Linked DNA regions of Homo sapiens: all the other regions are linked to region 1. Evidence: fine-mapped expression QTL. A gene starts in region 1. Each other region holds a variant in brackets. All regions are shown on one strand. Distances are between the middles of the regions. Region 1 holds the start of GSK3B (glycogen synthase kinase 3 beta). Region 2 overlaps GSK3B (glycogen synthase kinase 3 beta). Region 3 overlaps GPR156 (G protein-coupled receptor 156). Region 4 overlaps GSK3B (glycogen synthase kinase 3 beta). Region 5 overlaps LOC105374065 (a long non-coding RNA gene).

Region 1 (5,104 bases):
TTTTGCTCTTGTTGCCTTGGCTGGAGTGCAATGGTGCGATCTCAGCTCACTGCAACCTCCACCTCCTGGGTTCAAGCAATTATCCTGCCTCAGCCTCCCAAGTAACTGGTATTATAGACGCCCGCCACCACGCCCAGCTAAGTTTTAAAGTTTTAGTAGAGACGGGGTTTCACCATGATGACCAGGCTAGTCTTGAACTCCTAACCTCAGGCGATCCACCTGCCTCGGCCTCCCAAATTGCTGGGATTACAGTCATAAGCCACCACTCCTGGCTTGTCCATAAACTCTTGATCTTGAGCTAACATGATATGCACATTATAAGATACACACAGAAATAAAAAAAGGATTAAAGGTGCACTATTTTAAAGATAAATTTCAACCGGCCCGGTGTGGTGGCTTACGCCTGTAATCCTGACACTCTGTGAGGCTGAGGCAGGCAGATCACCTGAGGTCGGGAGTTCGAGACCAGCCTGACCAACATGAAGAAACCCCGTCTCTACTAAAAATACAAAAGTAGCTGGCATGGTGGCACATGCCTGTGATCCCAACTACTTGGGAGGCTGAGGCAGGAGAATCACTTGAATCGGGGAGGCGGAGGTTGCGGTGAGCCGAGATCGCGCCACTGCACTCCAGCCTGGGCAACAAGAGTGAAACTCCGTCTCAAAAATAAATAAATAAATAAAGATACATTTCAATTATTTAAGGTCCCAAACCATTTTGTTTTCACCCTCCTACTGCTATCGGGCCCCTAACAATTATTAACACTTTTTCCAATGCCTCATTGGCCAAGGGATGTTTTTAGGTTGGCCTGCAGGGTTTGAAAATTTGGTTACCAACATTTAAAAATGCAGAGATTTCACACAAAAATCCAATTTTGGGGTTTCTTTTGGGAGGAAAAAAATTGAACATCTGAGAACACTGGACCCACATTCCTGAGGGCAACAATCTGCTAGAGTTGAGCAGCTGTTCCTTTTAGTTATGGCATGGATATTCCAATTTGCCATTTTCCCTATCATTCCCCATTGTCTTACACAAGGCCAGTCTCACTCATTTGCTTTACTTGTCTGGCCTCTGTAGCCATTTGAATCTGCAAACACTATCTAGACCTTTCCTGTCTTCCATCAAAGCTTACTTTGTTCTGTCCCAAGTCCTTCATCAGTGTTTCAAAGCAAGAGCCAGGTAATCTGATCAAATATAGGTCCTTTAACATGTGCTTTCTGGAGACAGCATCTTAACAGAAAGAGATGACTCTGCAGGTAGAAATTACAGGCACCACTGGATTACAATCAGGATGGCAACTGTCTGTTCTACTTTCTCTGTTATCTTGACGTAGCCATACCTCACTGTTCTAAAGCAGACCAAAGGAACTGGTTCTATGGTAGAACAATGGACGCTGGTCTTATGTATGAAATCTTCTCAAGCTGCACTTTTATAGATCACCCTAGTTCCAAAAGATCCAAAGCTACCACGGGCTCCTCTGACCCCCCCATTTCCTCGGAGGCTTCAGGATATCCGGCCTGACGGCATTTCCCCTCACCTGCTTTCGGGGCCCGTTTTGCGCTGGGCAGTTGCGCCCAAGGAGCGCGCGCATCCAGCATGAGCTCATTTCTCATGGGCGTTTCCAGAGGCCCGGCCGGGCCGCGCACACCAAGCGCAGCAAGCCTCTGTATCAATGGCCCCCGCGGCTGGGCGGGGCGCGGCCGCCCAAAGGCGCTGCCTTTCTGGAAGCTTTGTTCCCATTTTAGCGTCTGAGAGCTTGCAGCCGGCTGGGAAGGCCCCCTTGGTCCGTCTGGCCCTTTCGGGGAAGAGGCCAACACTCGGCACACGCGATCCACGGCAGAGGGGAGCCTTGGGCGCGCAGAATTGGCTGCGCCCCGCCGAGAGCCTCCTGTGGGTGGGGAGAGCCCCTCCACCCCTCTGCTCGCTTGAGCGCTCAGAGCCCAGGGCCGCCGACCGCAGCACTTTCCGATTTGCTGCACCGAGGGCCCGCGGTCCCTGTGTGCGGTTTCCACCGTTGTTGGAGGCGGCCGCAGGCGAACCGTCGGGTCGTCAGCCACGACCCGAGTCAGGCATCTCCCCGCTCCTGGGACCGGGGCCGAAGGCCAATCACACTGCAGCTAGGTCTTGCGATTGGACGGCAGTGAGAGCCGATTGGCCGCCGCCGCGAGTTTCGGGCTCCCTCCCTCTCCCTTTTGCCCCAACTCCAGCGCCTAAGCTTCAGGCCAATGAGACAGCGCTTTATAGACGCCCTCCCTTCGCTTTCTTCTCCCCACCTTGGAGAGGGAGGGGAAGTCCTGACTGGCCAGACTGTCCTCGGAAGCCCCCTTCTCTTCACCAATCACCGAAGGAGGTACGCTCCCAGCGGAGTTTTCCAGCCAATCACAAAGCGGCGGCGGCGCCCAGCCGTGCAGTTTCACCAGCGTCTCTGGGTTTCACCGTCCTCAACTCTTCAAGCCTCTTCGTAAGGGCCGGCGACTCTGATTGGCCACTGTTGCCATTGTCGAATGTCTCCTCCAGCCAGCCACCGAACAAGGCGAATTCACCCTTTCCGTTCGGCTACCTTCGGCATTTTCCGCTCTTTGGGCGTGGCTTCCCAGCGTCACTTTCTAATTGGTTTCTCAGGCTGATCGGCTTTTTCCGGGAGGAGCCGCAAACAAACGACGTCCGTGATTGGCTCCGTTCGGGCTTCGGCTCCCAGCCGAAGCGGGCGAGCGTGGGGCTCGGCCGGCGATTCCCAGACGCCTGTTACGCGGGCGGCGGGGCGCTGGGCGGTGTAAGGCTGGGTGGGGGAGGAAGGAGGTGGAGGACGAGTAGGAGGGGGGAGGAGGAGTGGGGAAGTGCAAGGCGGCTGCGCAGACAGCGCTCCTCACACAGAGCAGCTCCTGACCCGGGCGAATGCGGGCTTGTGCCGCCGCCGCCGCCGCCGCCGCCCGGGCCAAGTGACAAAGGAAGGAAGGAAGCGAGGAGGAGCCGGCCCCGCAGCCGCTGACAGGGCTCTGGGCTGGGGCAAAGCGCGGACACTTCCTGAGCGGGCACCGAGCAGAGCCGAGGGGCGGGAGGGCGGCCGAGCTGTTGCCGCGGACGGGGGAGGGGGCCCCGAGGGACGGAAGCGGTTGCCGGGTTCCCATGTCCCCGGCGAATGGGGAACAGTCGAGGAGCCGCTGCCTGGGGTCTGAAGGGAGCTGCCTCCGCCACCGCCATGGCCGCTGGATCCAGCCGCCGCCTGCAGCTGCTCCTGGCGCAATGAGGAGAGGAGCCGCCGCCACCGCCACCGCCCGCCTCTGACTGACTCGCGACTCCGCCGCCCTCTAGTTCGCCGGGCCCCTGCCGTCAGCCCGCCGGATCCCGCGGCTTGCCGGAGCTGCAGCGTTTCCCGTCGCATCTCCGAGCCACCCCCTCCCTCCCTCTCCCTCCCTCCTACCCATCCCCCTTTCTCTTCAAGCGTGAGACTCGTGATCCTTCCGCCGCTTCCCTTCTTCATTGACTCGGAAAAAAAATCCCCGAGGAAAATATAATATTCGAAGTACTCATTTTCAATCAAGTATTTGCCCCCGTTTCACGTGATACATATTTTTTTAGGATTTGCCCTCTCTTTTCTCTCCTCCCAGGAAAGGGAGGGGAAAGAATTGTATTTTTTCCCAAGTCCTAAATCATCTATATGTTAAATATCCGTGCCGATCTGTCTTGAAGGAGAAATATATCGCTTGTTTTGTTTTTTATAGTATACAAAAGGAGTGAAAAGCCAAGAGGACGAAGTCTTTTTCTTTTTCTTCTGTGGGAGAACTTAATGCTGCATTTATCGTTAACCTAACACCCCAACATAAAGACAAAAGGAAGAAAAGGAGGAAGGAAGGAAAAGGTGATTCGCGAAGAGAGTGATCATGTCAGGGCGGCCCAGAACCACCTCCTTTGCGGAGAGCTGCAAGCCGGTGCAGCAGCCTTCAGCTTTTGGCAGCATGAAAGTTAGCAGTGAGTATTGGTTTTATTTTACACCCCTTTTCCACCTCGCCCTTAAAATAAGAAACCTCGAAATACCAGGATCTGAAATTATTAGACCTCCTGATAAACAGGCAATGGAAAAGGGCAAAACCTATCTTCAGTCAAGGATGAAGCAGCTCCCTTTTTACTCCTCCCATACCCCCTCCCCCGGTCTCATTAACCTTGAATTGAGATAATATGATATTTATTTGGATGATTCGATTTCAAACTGCTTTCTTGTACTTTTCTTGCTGTTGGTAGTCAGTTTCATCAAGTGCTCGAGTGTTTCCACGTTAAAGTAGTGATGACAGTGTTTACTTGCCCATCCTTTAGAATAAAGAGAAGGACAAGATTTGATTACTAAACCATTATGCACATTTGCAGAATTTTTGGAATTTGGAATGAGAGAATATTTTAGGTCTCAGGGGTTATCATAGTTTGATATACTTAATAGAGACGTTAAATGTCCCACCCTCCCAACATTTTTTTCTTGTTTGTATGACTACACATAATATTTGTTCTTAATCTGTGGATGAACTTCCTCAGTAACCATTCACATTTGGAGGCTGCCATTGATTTCTCTCTTTAGAAGGGACTAGTGGGAGCCAATAAATACCTAGCAGCAGTAACATCTCTGTATGCATTTGTGTTCAATTGGATAAGTGGTTTGATGTGTTATCTCTTAACCTTCCTGTTTTGACATTACCAACCTGCCACCGTATAATTTATGTTTAATCAAAAGTTAACTTGGAAGTATTAATAGGTCCAAGTTTTGATTGAGATTTGTTTTGTCATAGTGCCAAATACTAAGTTAAATGTTGTCACTGGCTCATTACATTTAAGTTCAATTTTGGAGTGCTACTGCATTCATTACCTGTTAAATGTTCTGGCGGGTTCCTTAAAAAGGACGATTTAAAACACTCTAGCGTTAGTTTCCATCATATTTAGATAACTGTGGATTTAGTTAGAAGAATGTGGATTTAGTCCTTTCCATTTTGGCTTTTGCAGATGGCTATGGTCCTAGAAATAATAGGGATATTTGGGCTGTGTTCAGGGTTGTGGATAGACTACTCTTGTCCTGGGTTTGTGCTGAAAAGTATGCTCTTGAAGTGTTTAATATATACTA
Region 2 (5,104 bases), 200 kb after region 1:
CTATTTAGAAAAATTTGTCCTTTTGAGGATATAGCAGCCAATCTAACACAACCCAACACTCCAAATTCCATATGCAGAAAATAAATGAAGATGTTTAGGTATTCAACCATTTATACAATGATTATGTTGTGTTATATAATTTCATTTTTAAAACCTTTATTGAATTCATTATCTATAAGCCTAGCCATACATCCCTTTAGTCTTTCAAGGTGCATACCACATTAACTACATGCGTTAATTTAGTGAACAGTTTTTACTAGGTGCTGGGCAAGAACTTAGAGGTTTCTTGCCTTCAGGGGCTTCAGAGACTGATGGATGGGAGGAGAGGAACTGAGGGCAATAGGGCAAGCCCAGTATTATTCCAGATGTCTGAGCAGAATACAAAGGCAGAAGCATTTCACTCAGAGTAGTGCTGTCTGGAAAGCCTTCTTAGGAGAGCTAACCATTGAGCTGAATATTGAAACATGAAAAAGTATTTACCAGATAGGGAGCGGAAGGGAGTGGATAAATATTTAGTAAAACTAGGTTTGGTGTGTTTCTTTATGGTTGTCGCTTAAGGTTCTGCCTGGTGGGGTTGATAGAATATGAGTTTACCAGGAAGGAGAAGACTGGAGCTGTTGACAGTGGCCAGATCACATTAGCTTGTAAGCAGTTGGAAGCAATTGCAGGATTTTAAGCGGAGTAGCGACATTTCTAATAGGTTTTCTTTTACTTCGCTCTTAAAGGCTACACATGCACCTCTATTGCTGAAGTTTGGCGACCTCTGGTGTTGAACTATAAAATAAACAACGTTGTGGAAGAAATACTAGCGTTTCAGAGCTTGTCAGTTGCTTTTTGTGAGGTGCTTCTTGGGCCGTAGTACTTCTTTGAAGACAGTAATTATCAACTCATAATTCCTGTGTTGATATTTTTCAGTGTTTGGATAAATTTCTAACTAGGTAGGGCCAGGAACAGATAAATTGATTGATTTAATAGTAAGGGGATGAACAACATCCCCAAAGGGGTGGGGCAGGCTGATCTTGATGCTTTTTGCAACAAATGAAAAGATCATGAGTTCTAGTAATAGATAACTGAGAATATGTTCCCTTCCCATTGGTGTGATAATTTTTAAAATTCCCCCCTCTTTTGTATGAAATACACTTACAGAAGAGTGCATAAAGCATTTCCATCTAGTTTAATTTCCTTTAAGTCAAAAAAGGACTCAGTTTTCAGGAAATCCAGGAATAAGTATTAATTACTCAAAATATATGTCTTTAGTCTAAACGTTTTGGAGGAAAAAAAATTTCCATCTCTTAAAATTCAAGTGAACCCTAAGACTTGTTTTGTGTATGAAATGATAATTTGTCAAACATCTTTTTTATCTATAAAATTATTCAATTATTCTGTTTCAAAAGTTCCAAATGTAGAATTCAGCTGGAGTAAATCAGGTAGAAATATACTCTGAACCTAATAAAAACTTAATATAAAACCTAAAGATATACTCAGAGGTTGAAATAGGATAGTTGTTAAAATGTCTTATGTTTGTGGTGTTAAAGATAGTCATGCGTTCTGAATCTTTGCTCTTCATATCTATCACTTGCTTACCTTTTAGCCTTTAATTATATCATCCATCTATAATCCAGTCCTTATTCTCTTTTAGAATGCTGTTTTTCACCTACACATCTAGTGTGCATAGAATGTACTTTTTACTCATTTGCCTGCTACATTCCTTAAGTAAAATCAGCTCTTGACTCCCCTTCCAGAACCTTTCCTGAATCCCTTCCTCTTTCCAGTGCAGTGTAGCACTTTCACCTCACACATTACCTATACTTACTTTGCTATACTATTGTCACCTGATTGTTGTTGATTTACGTACAAGTCTCTCTGCCCTAGAGCTTCTTGAGGAATAGGCTCTAAGTAAACGTTTTGAAATGTGAATAACTTCAGAGGCTGAAAAGTTTTTTAAATGCCTCTTGATTATGTCTCATCTTTGCTTTCTTAAAAAATATGCATATTGTATATAAAATAGTTCTGATTTTAGGGTTTGACAGATTCTGATACTTTTAATGCTAGCCTTATAAATAGCAATTTAAGAAGGTTAAACTTCTGTTTGCATTTAGTAAAGGCAACACAAATTACATAATGGTCCCTTTTTTTTTTTTTTT[TA/A]CTTTTTAAATCAAGTTAATAGAAATATAATTTATATGTAATAAAATATAGGCATTTTAAATGACAGTTTAGTAAATTCCAACAAACATGCCCATATAACCACTACCCTGGTCAAGATTTAGAACATTTCTATCACCCTAAAAATGTTTCTTTTTATAGCCTGGAATGACCAAATGTCTCAGTTTGCCTGGACTGAGGGGTTTGCCAAGATGGTCCCAGGCAAACTGGGATGGTTGGTCACCCTGTTCATTCTCCTTTGTGGTCAGTTTCCCATCTTCTGTCTCAGGTGATCATTGATCTATTTTCTGTCACTACAGATGCCTATTCTAGAATTTCATAAACGAAATCATATATTTCTTTTGTATCTGGCTTTTTTTGCTCAGTACCATGTTTTTGAGATTCGTCAGTGTTGCTGCCTGTATCACCTGTTTATTCCTTTTTATGCTAAGTTGTATTCTGTTTTATGAGTATACCACAATTTCTTTATCCATTCACCTATGAATGGACATTTGACTTGTTTTGGGGTTTTGGTTATTATGAGTAAAGCTCCTATGAATGTTTGTTTACAGGTGTTTTTGCAGACATATGTTTATATTTCTCTTGAATAAAAAAGTAGGGCTGAAATTGCTGATCATATGGTAAGTGTATGGTTACCAAACTATTTTCCAAAGCAGTTTTACTATTTTACACTCCCACCAACAACACATCAGAATTCCAGTGCTTCACATTCTCATCAACACATGGTATTCTCAATAATTTTAGATTTAGTCTTAAAATGACTTTTATCATTAGGAAATGCCCCTCTTTATTTTTGTTTAATTTTCTTATCCTGAAGTCTTCATTTTCTAATATTAATATAGGCACTCTATCTTTCTTATGATTTTGCATGGTATAACTTCTTGCATTCTTTTACTTTTACTCTATGTGTTTTAATTTAAAGTGCATTTCTTACAGACATATAGTTAGGTGTTTTTTAATTGAGTTTGACAATTTCTGCCTTTGTAATTGAAGTACTTAGACTATTTACATTCAGTGTAATTATCACTGTGGTTGAGTTTAAGTTTTGCACCTTCGTATTTGTTTTCCTTTCATCCCATCTTTCCTTTGCTCTGTTTTTCCCCCTCTTTTACTGCCACCTATGGATTAAATCAGTGGTTTTTATTTTTTCTATTGGCTTTTAAGCTATACCTCCTTGTTGCATTTTTAGAGGTTGGTCTAGGATTTAAAATATGCATCAATATATTACAGTCAGTCTTCAAGTAGTAATGTACCATGTCATATAGAAAACAAGAACCGTGTGACAGTATTTCCATTCCCCTTCCTGTTCTTTGTGCTATAGTTTTCATACTTTTTAATTCTACATGTTATAATCCTTACAATATTTGTTGTTTATAGGGGGAACCCGCCCCTAATATTTCAACATAGGTTTTTTCTATTTTCCATGAGTGTCGGCTGGCTGAGAAATAAAGAGAAAGAGTACAAAGAGAGGAATTTTACAGCTCGGCCTCCGGGGGTGACATCACATATCAGTAGAACCGTGATGCCCACCTGAGCTGCAAAACCAGCAAGTTTTATTAAGGATTTCAAAAGGGGAGGGGATGCAAGAACAGGGAGTAGGTCCCAAGATCACATGTTTCATAGGGCAAAAGGCAGAACAAAGATCACATGCTTGTGAGGAAACAGGACAAAGGACAAAAGGCAGAACTTTTGATAAGGGTCTATGTTCTGCAGTGCACGTATTGTCTTGATAAACATCTTAACAGAAAGCAGGGTTTGAGAGCAGAGAACTGGTCTGACCTCAAATTTACCAGGGCGGGATTTTTCCCCACCCTGCTAAGCCTGAGGGTACTGCAGGAGACCAGGGCGGATTTCAGTCCTTATCTCTATGGCATAAGACAGACACTCCCAGAGCAGCCGTTTATAGACCTCCCCCAAGGAATGCATTTCTTTCCCAGAGTATTAATCCTTGCTAGGAAAAGAATTTAGTGATATCTTCCCTATTTGCACATCCATTTATAGGCTCTCTGCAAGAAGAAAAATATGGCTCTATTTTGCCCAACCCTGCAGGCAGTCAGACCTTATGGTTGTCTTCCCTAGTTCCCTGAAAATTGCTGTTATTCTGTTCTTTTTCAAGGTGCACCGATTTCATATTGTTCAAACACACGTGCTTTACAGTCAATTTGTACAGTTAACACAATAGTGGGCCTGAGGTGACGTACATCCTCAGCTTATGAAGATAACAGGATTAAGAGATTAAAGTAAAAAAAAGACAGGCATAAGAAATTACAGAACTGTTAATTTGGGGAACTGATAAATGTCCATATTAAAATGAAATCTTCACAATTTATGTTCAGAGATTGAAGTAAAGACAGGCTTAAGAAATTATAAGAGTATTATTTGGGAACTGATAAATGTCCATATTAAAATGAAATCTTCACAATTTATGTTCCTCTGCCGTGGCTCCAGCTGGTCCCTGTGTTCAGGGTCCCTGACTTCCCGCAACAGTTGTTACTTTGCTTTAAACAATTTCTTCAAGAGGAATTTTTTAATGAGGGGGAAATATCATACATTTAACCACATATTTACCATTTTTGGTGCTCTCTATTCCTTTGTGTAGATCAGAATGCCCATTTCAGAAGTCTTTCTTTAATCCTGAACTACTTTTTTGTGGTGAAGATCTGCTGGTGACAAACTTGGTTAGCTTTTGTTTGCCTAAAAATGTATTTTGAAGGATATTTTCACTTGATGCAGAAATTGGTTTCCCTTGGTTTCCAGGGTTTATTTTTCCTTCAGTTTTTGGAGAGATCTCTATTTTCTTCTGGCTTTCATTGTTTCTGTTAAGAAGTCAACTGTTGATACCCTGTATATACCCTGTCTATAATGTGTTTCTGGCATTCTTGAAGATTTTCACTTTGTGAGTGGCTTTTATCAGTTGATTATGAGTTTTTATAGTATTCTT
Region 3 (5,104 bases), 150 kb before region 1:
TTTTGAAACCATTCAACTCTTTCCTTTCAATGATTGAGCCCTTCATTGTTTCATCAGCTCCTCTTGTGTGAATCTCTCTGAATGTGTGCCAAGTTTGCAGTTTAATGCCTGTCCCATGTAGGAGCCCAATATCACGGTATATAAAGTTTCTACACTGGATATCCATGGACTGAAGAGGGGCCTAGCATTCAGGGTTCCAAGCCAGTGAGTTTAGCTTATCCAAGGGTACCTCTAGAATGTGCTCAGAAATTTATTCCAAGTCAGAGTTGCATCCCCCAGGACTTTAGGCTCAGATGGACAACCCCATCATATTTACAGAATCCCTCAAAGATAATTTAAGTTTAAGATTGTCAGCCCACCTGGGGTGCACAGTGTTGACCAGGGTTTCTTAACCTTAGCACTGTTGACATTTGGGGCCAGATAATTCTTTGTTGTTCAGACCATCCTGTGAATTATAGTATGTTTAGCAGCATCCTTGGCATCTACCTACTAGATGTGAATAGCATCCTTCTCTTAATTTTGACAACCACAGATGTCTCCAGAATTGCCAAATGTCCCCTAAAGGTGCAAAATTGCATAGTTGAGAACTACTGGTAAAGAGGCACTATGGCATGCCAAGCTCTAGGGAGCCCACAGAAGTGCACCTCTGGGAACTAAAGCTGAAGAAACCCAAGAGGCCCCTTGGTATCTTCTTGGAAGAAGTTAGTCCAGAGTGTCTGCACCATGTGGAGTGTATACTGGGATGACATTGACCTTGGAATGTAAACTCCTGGGATTCTTGCCTCTGCAGATTTGGAGCAGGGTTTTCTTCTTCTCTGCTTTTCAGTTTACTTATTTGAAAATGAGGAATGGTGTTTACATCACAAAACACTGTAGTGAGGACAAAATGAGGTTTTATGTATATATACACCCATACATATACATATACACTTCTTCCAAATGATATAATAATATATAAACATTGAATGAATAATGGTTCAAATATAAGTGTACTTATTTGCCACTATGATTAAAAGGGCAATATAGGAAAAATACATTTTCTTCTAATCCATCATGTTGTAATAATCCTCCCTGTGGTTGCAGTATGGTTCTGTGCTAGAAGGCACAATAGGAAATCTCTAACTTTAAAAAAAAAGAAAAGAAAAAATATCTTTCTAGCAATTAAAATCTCAACTAAATTAGAATGCAAATAGGTTTTTATATTTGCTTCTTAATTTTGCATTCAATAATCTGACTAGAATATGCAATAATTTAAATGCCTTGATGGGAGATAGTGGCTTTTAGTTCTCTTGGGATTTCATTGTAATAAACCTGGTAAATAATTCAGGAACATATGAGAGGCCAATGAATGGTCAGCACCTGGTGCTATATTATTTGTGCCTAAGCACACAGACTCCAAAGATGGCACTCTCCACCTGTCACTGTTGTTCTGGCTTAAACATGGGCCCTGTGTTCAGTGGCTATTGAGATAATAGTAATGGATATTTTTGCCTTGTCCAATTTTCCTCCACAATCAAAGAAAACTGTGCTAAGCTGTTTAAAAAATACAAAGCAGAAGTGGCAGCCTCTTTTAGATTACCACTGGTAAAATTTCAAATCTATTTTCTCTATTAAGGGATTGATTGTTTTAAAGAATTAGGGATATGGCTATCTTTTCTACTGGTGCTAATTTGAGCCTTTTTGCCTTTCTGTCTTTGTTCCACAAGGCTGAGCTTCTCTTTAGATCACATTATTCATATTGCAAGGATCTTCTGAGAGAAATAACACCATCCTCTGGCCAGCCACTCACTCTGCAGGAGTTCCTAGAGCTCCCCAGTTTCTTTCCCTATTGCCTGAGTAGTCTATCTCACGCCTGTTAGTCTCACAGTTTAAATACAAACACACAAAGACTCTTGCAGGCAGCTTGGGTACCTTTCTTTGACCCCAGCCGACTGGACATAGAGAACAAGAGCTAGAGAGAACAAGAGCTAGAGTGACCGACAGATCATGTGTGGAGACAGCATGGGGCACCTGAGCCCAGCACCATCCAGGATCAG[A/C]CAGAACTTAAGCCATGAGCTGCCTAGAAAGATCTTGGGAGGGCACTGGGTTTCCCAGTATGGAAAAAAGAAAAATGTGGCTCACAAGTCTAAGCTAAGGTCTTTACAGTACTGGGCCATAAACAGGATCTGAAAAGAAACTGCAGAAAATGTTAGATATGCTTTATCTTTGTTTTAAAAATATTATTTACTATAATGGCTTAAAATATGTTGATTTAAATATATGATATTTGATACCTTTGTAATATATATAATAAAGTGTATAATAAAATATAACTATATAATTAAAATAGATGATATTTTAAAACCTCTCTAATAAACCATTTACGTGTGTGTGTGTGTGTGTGTGTGTGTGTGTGTGTGTGTGTGTGTGTATACATGCCTTTGTTTAACAGGTTTAATTGCTTTCCTTTCTTCAGGAACCAGAGTGAGGGTACTCGAACAGTGACTGCCATCTGGTGGTTAACCAGAATCATCACCTTGTGTAGCCTGATGGTTACTAAGATGTCCACTCTTGACTCACATGGCATGCACTCGCAGCAGGGGACCAGTTGAAGGATGTCTGACTTTGGAGGGTCACCAGTTGAAGGATGTCTGATGAAGGAGCCTAGCGAAATAACCCTTTGCTTCTACCTGAATGGGTTGTTCACTCTGGATTCTGAGCCTGCAGCCAGCTCCAAAATGGGGCCTCTGAAGAAAAGATTTGAGTTGCTCTTGTGTCTTAGTCAAAGATCTACATCCCTACCAGTGGGTAACCAAGACTGTGAATAAGCACACACCAACAGGGGCATGTGGTGACATGGAGCCTGAAATAAACTGCTCTGAATTGTGTGACAGTTTTCCTGGCCAGGAGCTGGATCGGAGACCCCTTCATGATCTCTGCAAGACAACAATTGTAAGTGAGCAGCCACAGGATGCCAGGGCTGCTCAGATGTATGTGGTGGTGGTGGTGTTGGGGAGGAGGAGGTGGAGGGAAAGGGGGATGAGGAAGGGGAGGAGTGGGAGGAGAAACTGCTCATGCAGGATACATATTTCCCAGCACTTGGTGACGATGGGGCAGTTTGTTTTTGACCTATAGAAGATCCTTCATTCCTAACAGCTCCTCCTTATTCTGTCCTCAGACATCTTCCCACCACAGCAGTAAGACCATCTCTTCATTATCTCCTGTCCTCTTGGGTATTGTTTGGACTTTTCTCAGCTGTGGACTTCTGCTGATACTTTTCTTTCTTGCCTTTACAATTCACTGCAGGAAGAACAGGTAAGCAGCCCAGTTTCTCATCACACATAGCTCAATCATGAAATCCCAAATGTTAGTATCTTTTGGCAGCACAAGCCACTATCTGGTCTCCCACTACAGGATTAAACCACATGAGACATTCCCTCTGAAATAGTCTACCTGTTGAGAAGGGGAAAGATCTAGGTCGGTATTGTGCTAACTACTGCAAGGGTATCCAAAGAAGAGAATGAAGAGTCTCTCTCTATAATGGAGGTACAATCCTTCTGAGAAGATGAGGTATCTGTATTTAAAATGAAGACCATGTAGAGGATTCCAAAACAACACAAAAACTTGAGGACAGCACAGCAGAACCAGTCTGGGTGAGTTAGGGTTTCTGCAAAAGCAGTGAAGCACTGCTACCTGGCTATTTGCTAGATAATTCTGGCTGACTAGAAAGTCATCAGCTTATCAGGGTAAGTATGGCTCCCAGGATTCGCAAAAGAAGCAAAATGGTGACTTTTTTCTGAAGGGACTTATAGCACCTTGCCTTGGATGCAATTTCATCCTTCCTCAGGGCCCATCCCATCTCTCCCACCCCCACACTGTACCCTCATCCTACCACAGCCGTCCCAGGGTGCCTCATGAGAAGCCCTGCTCCAGCCCTCTCCTTAGCCCACAGCTGACTTCTAGATGGAGCCCACAATCAGAAATTAACAACTTCCTCAAACCAGCCAAACTCGTCCAGCCCCACTCCAGCCTTACCCTGTGTGGTGACCAAGCATGTCGTGCTCCATTGCCTGTGGATTTGACACTCAGATGAGAATTGGTCAGTTGCATTTTGGGATGCTGTTTTGCCATGTTAGGCATGGAGGACGTGGAATTGTTAAGCAGCAGTGATTGGTTGTTGGGTCAGCCTCAGCATGGTGGTGATACGTGGCACTCCAACTAGAGTATACCCCAGAGACTGCCTCAGCCACTTTTCATTCTGTTCCTCAAGCACACTACGCTGACTCCCATCTCAAGGCTTTTGTACTTACTGTTCCTGTACTGTTCCCTCTGCCTGGAAGTCCTCCTCAGATATTCCCATGACTAGTTCCTTCTCATCTTATAGGTCTTGGCTCCAGTGTCACCTCTTCAGAGACACCTTCCCTGATCATCCTATCTAAAGTAGTATCCCTACCCATGATCACCCCCTCATCTCATTCCATATCCTATCAGCCTGTTTTATGTTCCTTATAGCAAGCATAGTCTGCTATTACCATATTTGTTGATTTACCTGTTGATTGTCTGTATCCCCTACCAGAATGGAATTCTGTGAACACAGGGACTTTGCCTGTCCTCTTGTGCCCACCACTGTGTCTCCAGCATTTAGAACAGACTCTGGGATATAATAGGTGCTCAGTAAATATGCATCCAGTGATCCTGGGAGGAAAGAGATTTAAATCCCAACGGTGGCTGCTGCCAACAAAGTGACTGGGAAAATCATGCATTTCAAGGTTAGAGAACTATGGAGTACAGTCTTTTCAGCTGTAACATGTTTCTATAATGCAAAGTAATACTCAATTGGTATTACCCAGTTGGTAATAAGAAAATTATGTCATTGATTCATATGTTACTTTTCCCCCAGCAAATCAATAATTTAAACATTCAGGGGCAAGCTTTCTCACAGCTAGTAAAGGAAGCTTTAAGCTTGGCAGTTCCTTCCCTTGGTGCAAGTAGTGTCTGGCTTAATGGCTTAAGAACTTGTGTCTTCCCTACAAGATGAGGCTGTAGGAGTAGATGAAGAAGTGGAGAAGACATTTGCCTTATGTTTAAAAACTTCAGTTGATTGTTAAAGAAAGCACAGATCCAG
Region 4 (5,104 bases), 270 kb after region 1:
ATTTCATAGGTGGGTGGTATTACTACCATTTTACCAATGAGGAAATGAGAGATAGATTAAATAACGTGTTCCAAAATCACACAGCTATTAAGTTGTACAAGTAGGCTTCATACTCAATAAATGTTTATAGAGTTGGTTTAGTTTTAAGAAAGATGTATCAGTGTGAAGTTCAGAAGAGCATCTCTGGTTGAAAACAAGAGACTAGAGTGGGTTAATGATCCATAGTCAGATCATTTATAATGAAAATGATCTTAGCCTCTCTTTTAAACCATAATGCCATTTAGCGTCACTTTACCAGTGCATATGTAACGGGAAGGGAATGTAAGGAGAAGTAAAATGAACTTTGCTGTTTTTATGTTGTGGAGTCACTATTTAAATGTTTGAGAAGAAAAGTTACAGAAATTACACTAAACTAAATCCAATGACAATTTATCGGAATTTTAAATTAATAAACATTTTAATAGAAAGCTCATTAATTCAGATTCCATTGTGTAAAATAAATTTACAGAGTGATGGTGGGAACAAAATAAGCATGTGCCAAGATTTGTTTCTTGAGTTATTTCTAAAAAGGTGGTAATCTGTGTTGTCTTGTTTCCTGATCTTGAACTAGTTTCTTCCCAGCCACCAAGAGGTCAGCTCCTCCTACTTTACCTGGCCCAGGGGCCAGTCCATCTTTATGATGGGATTGTAGAGATTATGAAATGTAACTTTACTCAGTCAGTAAGCTGGGTGGTCTTTTAAACCTACTATTGAGTATTGAATTTATAGAACTTTGCCTTTTTTTGTTTTACTTTTTCCCTCTCTGTACTTTGTCTTCCTCTGAAAAAGAGAACTCTGTTCTTCTCAGCAAGGACATGTGTGATTTGATTTTAAGTGGAGCTCATTGCATCAGGCAAAAGTTTTTTTGATGAATGTCTGTAGGACTGTGACTTTCGATATCAAAGATATTTATAATCAAAATAATTAGCGTTAAAATTATGTTCATTAAGTGATTTGAAAATAATTCAAGAGAAAAATATGAGATCATTACAGGTCTGAAGAGCATGGGTGTCTATCAAATTTTATTGTTCAGAAAGTGAATTTGTTTCTGGTTTTATGCTCACTTAAAAGGCTTGTGCTTTTTACTGTGATCATGCAAGCAGTCGTTGAATTTATCCAAGAAAGAGGAGACTGGTTTTGGCAATGTCACAAGCTCACAGGCTGTAGTCAGTGAAAGGACATCTGCACATTAATGCCAAATAGGATTTTGCTAAAGAGCAAATTAACATAAATGGGCTGGTGGCCATGTAGATGAGGTAAAACTGATGTCAGCCAGTGTAGTTAATGGCTGCCGTGGCCAGAGCTGCTCTCTCCATGTTGGCATGGGTGCTGATGTAGTGGTCAAACAGATAGATAAATTTCTGATGATCAGTGCCTCCCATAAGTCCTGGGGAAGACCAGAATGACAGTTCTACCTGTTATCTTCCCATACTGAAAATGAGAAGGAAATGCTGTTGGATGATGGTCATGCATAGGTTCTGAGTGTCATCAGAGCATGTGACATGCTGCAATAAGCATGGGTTTGTGGTGTTCCAGGTTTTCTCTGGATTTTTTTTTTAATGCAGCCTGTGCATGAATCATGAAAATGAACATTTTATCTGAGAAAGGCTTGGAGGAATCTGTGGTCTAGACAGGAATTGATGTTAGGTTATTGATGCACAGAATGTGGATGATCATTAAGGGTAAAACTTCTTTAAACAGGGCATATCTAAGGAAGGTCAGGAGTCACGAATGAAGTGTTAGCATAGTTCCTCAGTGATTGTTAGAAAAGGTGGTCAGCCTGGCTTTGGAGAGTAGGTTCTGTGTCATATACCCTTTCCTGCCACCTGTTCATTTGCCATACTGATGAATTAATATGACCCCATTACATGGGCTATATGAACCTAATGTGTGGATTCTGATGCCATAATATCTTCACTTGTGTACATGACAACAAGATTAGAAGCAGCTTTAGCTATTTTGAAGGAAATTAAATGAATTAAACCTAATCATTCACATTAAGAGATATTCACATTCCTTCCCCAAAGGCTGTGCTAAATGTATATAAGGGCAGCTTATCGGGAAATTAGGAAGTATAATTTTTATAGATTGGCTTTAGAAATGATAAACTGAACAGCTAATCCATCATAGAGTTCCCTATGTGTCCTTGGATATTCTGTGTCTCCCTCTAATTCAGAAATTCAAAGTAGAAAGATCCAGGACCAAACGTTGCATTCAACCATGACATTGGTTATTCTACTCACCATAGCACATGGTAGATCTACAAATCCCTTCAGTCCTAGAGAGAAAAAAACTTCTGAGTCTGCCTTTCGGTGTCACCAACCTTGATGGCATTGTGGCTTCTAGAGAGATGGCTTTTCAAAGTTGCCCATCCCAGTCAAGCTACCTCTCTTGCTCAGGGCTTAGTGTGAAATCTTTGGGAGAAAATTTGGCCAGCAGTACCTTCTCTGTCATTAAGAGAGATGACAAGGATGCAACTTGATAGCCACTAAAACAGCAGTCTACTAAACCAATTTGGACACAGTTAGATGCCCACTTAAATGTTAATGGATGCTGTGAAATAATAATAGACCTTAAAAGGGGGGAGGAGATAATGGTTAGTTGTAGAGTTGTACGTATTTCTAAAAGATTAGGGCAAAGTAAGCTCTAAGTAAGTTCTACGTCAAGATTTGACTACAAGATGCTTTCCTTTTCTTAATTTTTAATTTTTGTGGGGACATAGTAGGTGTATATATTTATGGGTTACCTGAGATATTTTGATATAGACATGGAATGTGTAATAATCATATCAGGGTAAATGGGATATTCATCACCTCAAGCATTTATCCTTTATGTTACAAACAATCCAGTCATACTTTGTTATTTTAAAATGTACAATTAAATTATTTTTGTACTGTAGTCACCCTGTTTTGCTAGCAAATACTAGGTCTTATACATTTTTTTTTTT[G/TG]TACCCATTAACCATCCCCACTTCCCCCACCCCCGCTACCCTTCCCAACCTCTGGTAACAATCCTTCTCTCTAACTCCGTGAGTTCAGTTGTTTTAAATTTTAGCTCCTACAAATAAGTGAGAACATGCAAAGTTTGTCTTTCTCTGTCTGGCTTATTTCACTTCACATAATGACTTCAGTTCCATCCATGTTGTTGCAAATGGCAGGATCTCATTCTTTTTCTTTTTCTTTTCTCTTTTCTTTCTTCTCTCTCTCTCTCTTTTTTTTTTTTTTTTTTTTTTTTAAAGACGGTATCTTACTGTGTCTCCCAGGTGGTCTTGGCTCACTTGCAGCCTCAACCTCTCTGGCTCAAGCAGTCCTCCCACTTAGCCTCCCATCTTTCTCTCTTATGGCTACATATTACCCCATTGTGTATATATACCACATTTTCTTTTATCCATTCATCTGTTGATACAAGATGCTTTATTAAATTGACTAAGTGAATTGGTACTGCAGTTGCTGTTTCTTTTTTGCTGGTTGTCTGTCTTCCATCTCTATGAATAATGAAGAGGGTCTGTTCTGCCCATCAACACTGACCCACGTTACTTTCATTGCCTCCACCTATTTACTTACTTAAGCAGATGGCATATTGTAACATGGTTCAAATTTTTAGCAAGTTTTCCCAGCTGTGCACTGTTCATTTATTTTCAAGTGAACTAGACTCCAGCTGAGTGTTCATATACAGCTGATCCCAGCTGTAGCAAGAGCTTTGACTGAAATGGTCTCTGGCTCCCTGAGTCTGCAACTTATTCAAAGACACTGTCTTCCCGGTACCAGGACCATGCTGAGGCATGAACTTAAATCCAAGAATAGAGAAATTCAGATTTCATAGTGTTGGCCTTATTTAAAACAACGTTCCAAATAACAGCTTGGAAGGCCATACAGTTCACAGCCTGCAGTTGAAACAGTGTACTTGTTCTCTTTTGTTGTTATAGCATTGCTCATGCTCTCTCTTGGGACTTTTTGACTTGCAGATGCTAATACTGGAGACCGTGGACAGACCAATAATGCTGCTTCTGCATCAGCTTCCAACTCCACCTGAACAGTCCCGAGCAGCCAGCTGCACAGGAAAAACCACCAGTTACTTGAGTGTCACTCAGCAACACTGGTCACGTTTGGAAAGAATATTAAAAAGAGAAAAAAATCCTGTTCATTTTAGTGTTCAATTTTTTTATTATTATTGTTGTTCTTATTTAACCTTGTAAAATATCTATAAATACAAACCAATTTCATTGTATTCTCACTTTGAGGGAGATCCAGGGGGTGGGAGGGGTTGTGGGGAGGGGGAAAGCGGAGCACTAGAACATACAATCTCTCTCCCACGACAATCTTTTTTTATTAAAAGTCTGCTGTTGTATACTTTAAAAACAGGACTCCTGCCTCATGCCCCTTCCACAAAAGAAGAAAACCTTTTTCTGTGCTGATGGGTTTTTTTGAACTTTGTTTTCTTTTAAAGTCTAGTGTGAGACTTTGGTATAGTGCACAGCTTGAAATTGGTTGGGAGCTTAGCAGGTATAACTCAACGGGGACTTAAATGTCACTTGTAAAATTAATCCATATCTTCGGGTATTTATAGACTTGCCTTTGGCATGTTGGTGGCAGGTGTGGCAGACAAAGAAATGTGTATCATTCGTAACCCAGGGAGGTCAATAAAGTTTGGAACTCTACAGGGAAGATTCTTAGTAGATTTGTTAAGGTTTTGTTTTGCTCTCAGTTAGTGCTAGTGATGTAGAGGCTTGTACAGGAGGCTGCCAGAGGGGAAGCAGCAAGCAAGACTCAGGCACACATGCTCTACAGGTGGCTCTTTGTTTGCCTGACCAAAGTTCTTTGCAAATCTTAGCACAGTTTCAAACTAGTGACCTGGGAGGAGATGGAAGGGGTGTTGAGCAGGCTGAGCTAGCTGCTGAGGTCAAAGGCTGATGAGCCCAGAGGAAGGGGACAGGTCAGGGATACATCTCACCACTGTGAATAAGTTTGTCCAGATTTTTTTCTAAAGTTACTTCCCTTGGAAAGATACACTTGAGAGGACATTGTAGTTAAATAATGTGAACTGTAACAGTCATCTACTGGTTTATTTT
Region 5 (5,104 bases), 67 kb before region 1:
CCAGCACTTCGGGAGGCCGAGGCGGCCGGATGACGAGGTCAGGATTTCAAGACCAGCCTGGCCAACATGGTGAAACCCCGTCTCTACTAAAAATACAAAAATTAGCCGGGCGTGGGTGGCACATGCCTGTAATCCCAGCTACTCAGGAGCCTGAGGCAGGAAAATTGCTTGAACCGGGAGACAGAGGTTGTACTAAGCCTAGATGGTGCCACTGCACTCAAGCCTGGGTGACAGAGCAAGACTCCGTTTCGAGAAGAAAGAAAGAAGAAAGAGAAAAAAGAGAAGGAAGGCTGTCTTAGGGTCTGTATTTTGGACTCAACTATATAGAGGCTTCTGTTATCCATTTGACCTAGAATGACTTTGTAACGCTTGCCAGACCTGATTGAAATTTATCATTTTGTTCAAAAGCAATGTGCAAACACCATAACTGTGCTCAACAAAATGTTGCCACCAAATGTATCATTTACTCTGTGCATCACCCCTACCCTTCCCCACCTCCTTTCCTAAATTTTTACCTAAGATCAGCTAATCCAGTGATGAAATCCTTAAAGGGCTGAATGTGCCATGACTTTTGGCATGCTCTTGGTTGTTCTGCTCTTGAAGAAAGGGCAGTAAATTGTGCAAAGGAATCCTGGAGAAGTAAACATTGCCTCTGCTGCTGTCATCTGAGCTATACATGTCTCTGTTGGTCCTAAGGCATAGCATGGAGCCAGGCCTGATTCTAACCCCAGCATATGTCCTCTGCTGTTGAAAATCTTGGAATTTCAACATTTGGATTCCATCCTGATCCCAATGTCTTTCCCTGTCCTGGTCTGCCACAAACCCTCTTTCCTTAAAGGTTCAACTTGGCCTTCCTAGAGTTCATAGAGGAGAAAAAAAGCATCAGAGGCAGGAGGCCTGTTTTTAAAGAATGATATCACTTTGAAAGAGGAAAAGAGAAAAGTCAATGCAAGTTCTATAAAATCTCTTCTGTATCTGTGTTTATCGTATTATCTTTACATGTGTCTCCTCCACAGATTCCAAGCTCCTGAAAGCATTGAGCATGTCTTCTCCATCGTTTTTCTCCTCTAGAGTAGCCATTACAGATCTTTGCACAAAGTATACACCCAACAAATGCTAGATGGGTGGATTTCTGGGTAGATAAATGGGTGAAACAAAGGAAGGCAAAGTTTCTGTTTTGGGGCCAGAGCGGAGGAGCAGGAGGAAAAACACGCATCTGGTTCCACTGCCTTCCGGTGAGTTAACAGCATGAAACTACATCACCTGCAGACCCAGGAGTCACTGAATTCTGAAAATGACAGTACTTTAAGTTTGTTGGGGGGTTGGGGAACAGGGCAATGAAGTTTATGGAAGAGAAGCGCAAAGTTCTTGATAAAGTTCTTGTCTTAAAGACGTTTTCTTTGCAGGCTTGTTAATGAGTAACAAGCAGTATTAGCAGAAGAAAGACCTGTTTGTCTCTATCACCAACAGCTTCCTGAGTCCCCTTTCTCAGAACTCCAAACAAAACAGTTTCTCTATTCCCTCCGGCCACTGCACTTTTCCCAGTAACACAATCTGGGCTCTGTTAAGGAAGGGTTTGTTTGTTTATTTATTTATTTATTTATTTATTTTTATTTTTTGAGATGGAGTCTCATTCTGTTGCCTTGGCTGGAGTGCAGTGGCGTGGTCTCAGCTCACTGCAACCTGCACCTTCTGGGTTCAAGCAATTCTCCTGCCTCAGCCTCCCAAGTAGCTGGGATTACAGGCACCTGCCACTACACCTGGCTGATTTTTGTATTTTTAATAGAGACGCGGTTTCACCATGTTGGCCACACTGGTCTTGAACTCATGACATCGTGATCTGCCTGCCTCGGCCTCCCAAGAGGGAGGGTTTAATGCAGACAGTGGTGTTTAGGAGGCTGAAAGCAGGAGAGAGCTTATCACTTTGCCCTCAGAGTTTGCTTTCCCTATCCCTGGCACCCACTCTGATGTCTTGCTCCTTGAAACATTCTTGACCTTAGCATTCCCCAATCAAACCACATTTGAATAAGAGAACATCTTGAGATGTTTTGTTCACCACTTAAGTCACAAGAAGACAGGAAATGCCAATGTCACAAATCAAAACCTGTTGTGAACTTGAAAAGGTCTGTGTCAAGGTTTCCCAAGAAACATTAGGCTCAGAGAATAAGTGCCTGGGAGACACCCTGGAAAGGTCTGTGGGTGACTAAGAAGAAAGCAAAAGGCTAGGAGAAAAAAAGGGAAGATGGATAAGAAGTTCAGGCACGGTCCCATGGCTCACGCCTGTAATCCCAATGCCTTGGAAGGACAAGGCAGGAGGATTGCTTGAGCCCAGGAGTCCAAGACGAGCCTGGGTAACAGAGTGAGAACCTGTCTCTACAAAAAATAAAAAATCAGCTGTGTGTGGTGGCTCATGCCTGTGGTCCCAGCTACTCGGGAGGCTGAGGCAGGAGGATCTCTTGAGCCTGGGAGGTTGAGACTGCAGTGAGTTATGATTGTGACACCGCAATCCAGCCTGGGTGACCCAGTGAAACTTCAACTCAACAAGAAAGAGGAAGAGAAAGAGGAAGAGGAAGAAGAAGAGAAGAGGAAGAAGAAGAAGAGAAGAG[AAGAGG/G]AAGAAGAAGAAGTCCAAACAACAGAGAGATGAGAAGAGAGATGTGGTGAAGGAGCAAGCCAATCAAAGAACAAAAGGCATCCTATGTGGACAGTTTGTGGCAATTGCCTCTCACATAAATAAATGTACTGACGCCAGTTCTAAGTTGAGAGGTGAGGCTTGCTTCTGCGAAGAATGGCAGAGATATCCTTGCAGAGTCCTTTCTTTAGGGCATGTGTGACTGTTCATTTCTCCACTTTTCCCGTTAAGACTGTGAGCTCTTTGAGCTTAGAACTTGTTATAATTATCTTGGAATCCAGTACCTAGCACTGTGCCTGGCACATGGTCAATGCCCAGCAAATGCTTGTCAAAAGAAAAATCAATCAAGGAAGGAAGAATGACCTCACCAGAACTGTCTTAAGGGGCACCCCAGGGAAGCACAGCTCACAAAAGTTCAAGTGGGAAGCCAGGCTTAGGTATCTCTTCAACTTATGTGATGGATGGCAGTGTTGCTGCTTCACCTAAATTTAAATCCCCCGTGATAACATCTTGAACCCTTTGTGGAAAGAAGGCATTTTAGATGTGCTCTCTTCATTAATTTTTGTACAATAATTTTCTATCCCCACTGCGATGCCTGGGCTTCAAGTCACCTGCATGACCATGTTGCTTTCAGCAAGTTCAGAACCTCTTTATGGCTCAAAGGCTCCCAACTGCCACCTGGGGTAACAACACCTACCTCATGAGGTTATGAGGGCTAAATGAATTAATATTTGTAAAATGGTTTGAACTGTGCCTGGCACGCAGCAAGTTTCATATGTTTGTTGAATAAAAATAAGTAGATAAAAAGTCTTACAAAGGAAAACACAGATTTATATGCAGAAATCCTCTTTATGTTTTCTTGTGTTACACAAAAATTCCTCATCTTGGTCTTCAATTTGTTCCTGAGGGAAGAGATCTGGAAAAGCAAGGATAGCCTTTTGGCTCAGCCCACTTTTGGGGAAATAGAATTTTCTGCCTGAACCCATCTGAGACAGGTGCATTTACTATAGGGAGCATATCCATCTGCAGAACTCAAATATCAGGGTGAGGCCAGAAGGAAAGGTGTAGTTGGAAAGCCAGGAAATTCGATTTTTTTTTTAAGATGGAGCCAAGAGACACTAATTTCCTTAGTAGAAATATTATGCACTTTGGCTGGGTGCAGTGGCTCATGCCTGTTATCCCAGCAATGTGAGAGTCCGAAGAGGGTGCATCACCTCAGGTCAGGAGTTTGAGACCAGCCTGGCCAATATGGTGAAACCCCGTCTCTACTAAAAATACAAAAATTAGCCAGGCGTGGTGGCTTGTGCCTGTAATCCCAGCTACTCAGGAGGCTGAGGCAGAAGAATCACTTGAACCCAGGAGGTGGAGTTCGCAGAGAGCTGAGATCGCACCACTGCACTCCAGCCTAGGTGACAGAGCAAGACTCTGTCTCAAAAAAACAAAAACAGAAAAATATTATGCACTTTGTAATAGAAGAAAATATATGTAAGATAATCTGCTATGCACCACTTAATACTCATCTTATTTAATATTTATAACCACCTAGCAAAGTAGTTATTGACTCTGTTTCACAGATGAGGAAACTTTAACTGGGAGAGGTTAGGTCACTTGCCAAAAATCACACAACTGGTTAGAGGCAGAGACTGAGTTTGCACTGAAATTTGACTTCATTCCAAAGCCTTTTGTGGACTCCCTAAAGCTGGTTACAGAGCATGTGCTACAGGCATGCTACCAGAAGACAGAAGGAATTTCAACCCGGCAGGGCAGGGACCCAGCCTGAGGTTTTCTTAGGACACCAAGGTTTCCTTAGGAAAAGCAAGCTGGTCTGGTTCTGTAAGCATATTGCAAAACTCTCCATTGCTCAGTCATTGCATCAGCATCCTGGAGGCTGGAAGGGAGCTCCCTAGAGCTACCTGGTCCTCCTCAGTTTCAGAAAGCTCAATGCAAAATACAGGTGATACTGACAGCAAGCAGTCTCCCTGTTTAAAAAGATCACGGTCAGTCCTGCAAACTGAAAAACTTTTCTCAAGGATTGTGCTTTGTAAGTGGCACAAAAAGATGATTCTGCGCAAGAGACCCAGAAGACCCTGTGGCAAATGGAAACAGTGCTACTCTCAGATCTTCTACTGAGCTGAGGGAAGAGCCACAATATCTCTTTTTTTTCTTTTTCTTTTTCTTTTTTATTTTTTATTTTGGAGATGGAGTCTCACTCTGTCACCTAGGCTGGAGTGCAGTGGTGCAATCTTGGCTCACTGCAACCTCCGCCTCTTAGGTTCAAGTGATTCTCCTGCCTCAGCCTCCTGAGTAGCTGGGATTACAGGTGCCCACCACCACGCCCGGCTAATTTTTGTATTTTTAGTAGAGATGGGGTTTCGCCATGTTGGCCAGACTGGTCTTGAACTCCTTAACTCAGGTGATCCACCCGCCTTGGCCTCCCAAAGTGCTGGGAATACAGGCGTGAGCCACTGAGCCCGG

What was found. PIP is the estimated chance that this variant, and not a neighbour inherited with it, causes the effect.
Region 2: its variant is fine-mapped to the expression of GSK3B in whole blood (INTERVAL, PIP 0.94).
Region 3: its variant is fine-mapped to the expression of GSK3B in whole blood (INTERVAL, PIP 0.98).
Region 4: its variant is fine-mapped to the expression of GSK3B in whole blood (INTERVAL, PIP above 0.99).
Region 5: its variant is fine-mapped to the expression of GSK3B in whole blood (TOPMed, PIP above 0.99).

What each region holds. Positions count from the first base shown.
Region 1 is chr3:120,092,212-120,097,315 of GRCh38, reverse strand. It overlaps GSK3B (glycogen synthase kinase 3 beta), which reads left to right and starts at 2,869. Exons shown (of 11, transcript NM_001146156.2): 1 at 2,869-3,969. The coding sequence starts at 3,882. GSK3B-DT (GSK3B divergent transcript) reads right to left here and starts at 2,212. Exons shown (of 3, transcript NR_186629.1): 1 at 1,538-2,212. RefSeq lists enhancers at 1,761-2,080, 2,360-2,654, 2,281-2,690.
Region 2 is chr3:119,887,786-119,892,889 of GRCh38, reverse strand. All of the region lies in intron 7 of GSK3B (glycogen synthase kinase 3 beta), which reads left to right. Among named protein-coding and RNA genes, the nearest start is that of NR1I2, 110 kb to the right of the region's middle. The variant TA/A (reference allele first, on the strand shown) is at 2,145.
Region 3 is chr3:120,241,830-120,246,933 of GRCh38, reverse strand. It overlaps GPR156 (G protein-coupled receptor 156), which reads left to right. Exons shown (of 10, transcript NM_153002.3): 2 at 2,456-2,931; 3 at 3,158-3,294. The coding sequence starts at 2,836. Among named protein-coding and RNA genes, the nearest start is that of GPR156, 41 kb to the left of the region's middle. RefSeq lists an enhancer at 3,023-4,222. The variant A/C (reference allele first, on the strand shown) is at 2,037.
Region 4 is chr3:119,825,752-119,830,855 of GRCh38, reverse strand. GSK3B (glycogen synthase kinase 3 beta) reads left to right here. Exons shown (of 11, transcript NM_001146156.2): 11 at 4,001-5,104. The coding sequence ends at 4,068. Among named protein-coding and RNA genes, the nearest start is that of NR1I2, 46 kb to the right of the region's middle. The variant G/TG (reference allele first, on the strand shown) is at 2,987.
Region 5 is chr3:120,159,548-120,164,651 of GRCh38, reverse strand. All of the region lies in intron 1 of LOC105374065 (a long non-coding RNA gene), which reads right to left. Among named protein-coding and RNA genes, the nearest start is that of GSK3B-DT, 67 kb to the right of the region's middle. The variant AAGAGG/G (reference allele first, on the strand shown) is at 2,607.